Regions from separate parts of the Homo sapiens genome. Here region 2 is linked to region 1. The links come from fine-mapping of genetic effects on gene expression. A gene starts in region 1. The other region holds a variant in brackets. All regions are shown on one strand. Distances are from middle to middle. Region 1 holds the start of OMG (oligodendrocyte myelin glycoprotein). Region 2 overlaps NF1 (neurofibromin 1).

What was found. PIP is the estimated chance that this variant, and not a neighbour inherited with it, causes the effect.
Region 2: its variant is the best candidate, but not a certain one, in a credible set for the expression of OMG in blood mononuclear cells (TOPMed, PIP 0.53).

What each region holds. Positions count from the first base shown.
Region 1 is chr17:31,295,484-31,298,291 of GRCh38, reverse strand. OMG (oligodendrocyte myelin glycoprotein) reads left to right here and starts at 1,053. Exons shown (of 2, transcript NM_002544.5): 1 at 1,053-1,136; 2 at 1,955-2,808. The coding sequence starts at 1,961. All of the region lies in intron 36 of NF1 (neurofibromin 1), which reads right to left.
Region 2 is chr17:31,155,539-31,158,346 of GRCh38, reverse strand. It overlaps NF1 (neurofibromin 1), which reads right to left. Exons shown (of 58, transcript NM_001042492.3): 2 at 2,221-2,364. Among named protein-coding and RNA genes, the nearest start is that of MIR4733HG, 61 kb to the right of the region's middle. The variant CATTT/T (reference allele first, on the strand shown) is at 1,356.

The sequences.
Region 1 (2,808 bases):
AGATTTACACAAGCAGTCCACTGAAGAGTGGAGCAAAATTTATCATAAATCTGATCTCACTTTATAAAACTCATGATGAAAAATTTTCCTTTTATATCATTTCATGTAATTTTAAAACTATAAACTACTTTCCCAGAAAGATGAAATGTGCAACACTCTGAAATCACCTAAATTGATACTGCTATTCTTAAAACATAAAATCAAATAAATGGTCATTCATACAGCACCAAAAATGTCTTTGGAAAAAACAATACTCATATCCACTTACCACCCAAGGTTGCATAAAGAAAAAAAACTTTAACTCCAAATATATAAAATAAAACATGTTTATTTTACATAGGAACTGATAATCTGAAGTATAAGATGCTAATTTCCAAATGTATCCTGGCTTGTGTGTAGCCTTGGTCAAATGATCATTGTATCAGAAAGATAAAGAAAAAATAATCGTATTTCAGTACTTCTATACATCCTAAAAGGGAAGACGGAACACTTAAGTGGTTGATAAATTTGAAAAGCTGATTAAACATAATAATCACCATGTTGGGGGAAGACATAAAAGTCATAAAACAGATTTTTTATAATATTAAAAAAGTGACATGAAAATTATACAATTTTAGAAAGGAATATAAAAAGGCAGGAGTTAAAAAATAGTGGGACTAATATCATAGAAAACTATCCATGAGGAAGGTCAAATTTATTTTCAACATGTAAAAAGGATAAAGAGTAGAGGTATTTTAAAAATTCACAGATTCTTAATGAGGCAAATGTTAAAATATGGAACCCAATCTCAGACAAATACATAGAAAGGAGTAAGGGCCAACTCTCATGCATAAGGTATCCCATCCTATAGCAAATCAGATATATAGGTACGCTTGATGCCACAAATTTTTTAAAAAATTGTCCATTTTGTTGCGTGTGCACCTCTTGCCATAAATTTGAGTCAGCACCAGCGACAGCTCTGCAGTCCTCCTATGTGGTACTGATCAGGTGGTTGCAGAGCTTCAGCTCACAGCAACACAATGCAGCTGAGCAGGCAAGCACAGCCCACAGCCAGAAACAGTTCCGACTCTACAGAACAAGACGACCTTTAAGTTTCCCAGAGAAAATGAGATGCTGATGTTGAAGACGACACCACGGTAAGATGTTATTTAAATCAGTAAAAGGCTGACTTTGGAATCTTTTTCCTTTTTCTTTTAAGAAAAAGTCAACGTTAGGATTAAATATATATTCAATAGCAAGTGCATGCACCAGAAATTTGCTGCAGTGTCAGTTGAGGGATATTTTTTATACATTCAGTCACTCTGTAAATATACATATTGTTTTCCTTTAAAATGGGCACTGAAATATACAGAAAAAAATCACTTTATAAAATGTGAGGTTTATAGGTACTGTGTTGGTCTGGATTTTTCAAGTGCTTTTTACAAAGATATATTTATCCTAAAAACATACAGATAAAATTTCGAAGAACTGCTTTAATATCTAAATAAAATCTACCCTATATACACACATTGAATTACATTACTGCAGAGATTAAAAAAAAAAGACACGACAGCCATTTTTTCTCATCTGAGTAAGAAAGCATATCATCAAAAATAGTAATAGCCTACAACTGCAACTATTTATTTGCAAAGAATGCTATTTTATCATATTAAGGCTCTAGAAAGATAAATAAGAAAGAATATGGTTAGAAAAGGGGGGAGGGAGAGAGAAAATAAAGGAGAAAATGCAGGAGAGAGTAGGGAGAGAGTCTCTCTCTACCACATAGCCCAATTGAAGGATTAAGCATTTGGACTATAAATGAAGGGGAGCTTTGTTAGTTTAATCACTGGAACAATTATAAAAGGACTCGACAACAACGAGGTTTATTGAAAATTTTGCCTAATGCTAACTGACCCATGCAGATGCCTAAACTGTATTTGCATATTAAAAGAAGGGTGTATCTGTTTGTTTCTAGGCTTTGATGGAATATCAGATATTGAAAATGTCTCTCTGCCTGTTCATCCTTCTGTTTCTCACACCTGGTATTTTATGCATTTGTCCTCTCCAATGTATATGCACAGAGAGGCACAGGCATGTGGACTGTTCAGGCAGAAACTTGTCTACATTACCATCTGGACTGCAAGAGAATATTATACATTTAAACCTGTCTTATAACCACTTTACTGATCTGCATAACCAGTTAACCCAATATACCAATCTGAGGACCCTGGACATTTCAAACAACAGGCTTGAAAGCCTGCCTGCTCACTTACCTCGGTCTCTGTGGAACATGTCTGCTGCTAACAACAACATTAAACTTCTTGACAAATCTGATACTGCTTATCAGTGGAATCTTAAATATCTGGATGTTTCTAAGAACATGCTGGAAAAGGTTGTCCTCATTAAAAATACACTAAGAAGTCTCGAGGTTCTCAACCTCAGTAGTAACAAACTTTGGACAGTTCCAACCAACATGCCCTCCAAACTACATATCGTGGACCTGTCTAATAATTCTTTGACACAAATTCTTCCAGGTACATTAATAAACCTGACAAATCTCACACATCTTTACCTGCACAACAATAAGTTCACATTCATTCCAGACCAATCTTTTGACCAACTCTTTCAGTTGCAAGAGATAACCCTTTACAATAACAGGTGGTCATGTGACCACAAACAAAACATTACTTACTTACTGAAGTGGATGATGGAAACAAAAGCCCATGTGATAGGGACTCCATGTTCTACCCAAATATCATCTTTAAAGGAACATAACATGTATCCCACACCTTCTGGATTTACCTCAAGCTTATTCACTGTAAGTGGGAT
Region 2 (2,808 bases), 140 kb after region 1:
ACCTATTTATAAATGGTCCTGCTTTTGGGGGGAAAATACTAATTTTTTCCATAAAGAAGGTAAATGATTTTCTACACCTCCAGTTTATTAGTTTTGTAAGTTTAGGGTATTGTGTAAGCAACTTTCTTAAAAGGAAACACACCAAGGATGATGCGAACAAAAAGTTAAACACCACATGCTCTCACTCATATGTGGAAGCTAAAAAGAGTAAAAAGTAGAAGAGAGGACACTAGAGGTAAGAAGGGTCGGGTAGGGAGAATCGGGGTGGGTAGAGATTTGTTAAAGGATACAGAAATATAGCTTTATAGGAAGAATAAGACTTAGTGTTCTGTACTACTGTAGAATGACTATGTTAACATTATATAGTTAACTTTTTTTTTTTGAGACGGAGTCTCACTCTGTCACCCAGGCTGGAGTGCAGTGGCGCATCCTGGCTCACTACAAGCTCCGCCTCCCGGGTTCACGCCATTCTCCTGTCTCAGCCTCCTGAGTAGCTGGGACTACAGGCACATGCCGCCACACCCCGCTAAGTTTTTTTTTTTTTTTTTTTTAGTAGAGACGGGGTTTCACCATGTTAGACAGGATGGTCTTGATCTCCTGACCTCGTGATCCGCCCGTCTTGGCCTCCCAAAGTGCTGGGATTACAGGCGTGAGCCACCATGCCTGGCCTACAGTTAACATTATATAGTTTCAAATAACAAGAGAATATTCAATATTCCCAACACAAAGAAATGATAAATATTGAGATGATGGATATGCTAATTACCCTAGTGGGATCACTATGTATTATATGTATTGAAACATCAATATGTACCCATAAACATGTACAATTATTGTATGCCAGTTAAAAATAAAATAGAACAAGAGAAAAATTATCTAAAATATGGGAATAAGGCAAAAAGGTAACTTCATGTCTTTTCAATGTCATACTAGAATATTATCTAATAAACCTAAGGACCATCTCAAAAAAAAGGAAGGGGGAACAATCTTCACAATCTATAACCAGAAGTTGTTTCACAACTCAATACAAACAAATACAAACTGGGATTATAAATGCAGGCTGGGCGCGGTGGCTCACACCTGTAATCTCAGCACTTTGGGAGGCCGAGGCAGGCGGATCACCTAATGTCAGGAGTTTGAGACCAGCCTGGCCAAAATAGTGAAACCTCGTCTCTACTAAAAATACAAAAAAATTAGCCGAGCATGGTGGCACATGCCTGTAATTCCAGCTACTGGGGAGCCTGAGGCAGCAAAATCACTTGAACTGGGAAGGGGGAGGTTACAGTAAGCCGAGATTGCGCCACTGCACTCCAGCCTGGGTGACAGAATGAGACCCTGTCATTCATTCATTCATT[CATTT/T]ATTCATTCATAAATAAATAAATAAATGCTAAACACCAGCAGAGAGTTCAGAGTTAATCAAGAAAAATCCAGATCAGTTGCCATGAACTGAGTATGTTAGTTTGAAACAGCTTAGAATGGAGATGTTAAATAGGAATTTAGAGAGAGGAAGGGATCACTTGAGAAAGACAAAAGATGTTATATGTTCAAAGGTACAGAGGGAGGACAGCTGGAGTACTCTGAAGTCTAGGAAACGTCAATCGATTTTAGAAAATGGGAAGAAGAAAGAAATTATGAGCTTTTAACAGTGGAATTATTTGATGAAACTGGTATTTGAGAAAAACTGTTTCAACAACAGGGTAACTACTACAGAATCTGTCACAGGTTACAGAAGGAAGAAAAAACACATATCTTCATAAAAAAATCAATCCACATTTTAGGACTATGAGATCATATTTTATCATCTACTTAGGGCTGGGACAACCGTAAGTAAATTCAAACAAGATGCTAAAGAAAAATATGTGTAATGGATTACTGTGGTCAATTCGTGTAGGCCACAAAAGCTCTATGAAATCCTAATTCAAGAAACATACTGGAAAAGGAGACATGGTCACAAAAGATAGGAGATGTTTCTAAGGGAAATAATAAATTAAAATGAAAGTTACAGTTACTTGTGCTCACTGAATCTAAAACCCAGCTGATTAAAAATTTGACAAAATAAAATTAAAAGGTTATCTGTGCTCGTAAACAAAATAAGATTAATGGTTATATCCAAAGTCCACAGAAAATCACTTTCCATACTTCAAAATATGCTGTTCTAAACTTTTTAATCAAAAAGAAAAGAAAGCAAATTCCCCAAAACACAGTAACCCAAATACTCACCATATTGTTAACATTCTTTAAAATAGTAGTGAGGCCGCTTATAACCAAAGAAAACTTGTATTTGGAAATATTGATTAGACATTCCTTGTTGTGCTCAGTACTGACTTTGGTATGTGTGTTCTGCTGTCCTGTTTTTATTGGAAGCTGAAAAAAAAAGAAAAAAAAAACACGTTAACAGCTTATCCTTAAAAACGACCATAAATAACTTACTTGCCATTGAAAATCATGACGTTTTAGGAAAACTGCATCAACCACAGATACCTATACTTGCATCTCAAACTCCGATTTTCAATCAACCTCCAATATATGATACACAGATATGTACATTTGCATCTCAAACACCAATATATGATAGCATTTATTATAGCAAATCTTAAATTCTTTGGAAACTTCCATTTTTGCAGCTTTCTTTCTGGAAGTCATAAATCTCTATCTACAAAATAGAATTCTTTATCCAGCACTATATAAGAAGAAATGATGACTCACAGAAACAGAGCTATTTGCTTGTGGCTAAAAATTATTTCAGAGAATGTCTGCAATAAAATGCATACAACCGTTTCCCTTATCCATTGAACTCAAACATTAAAA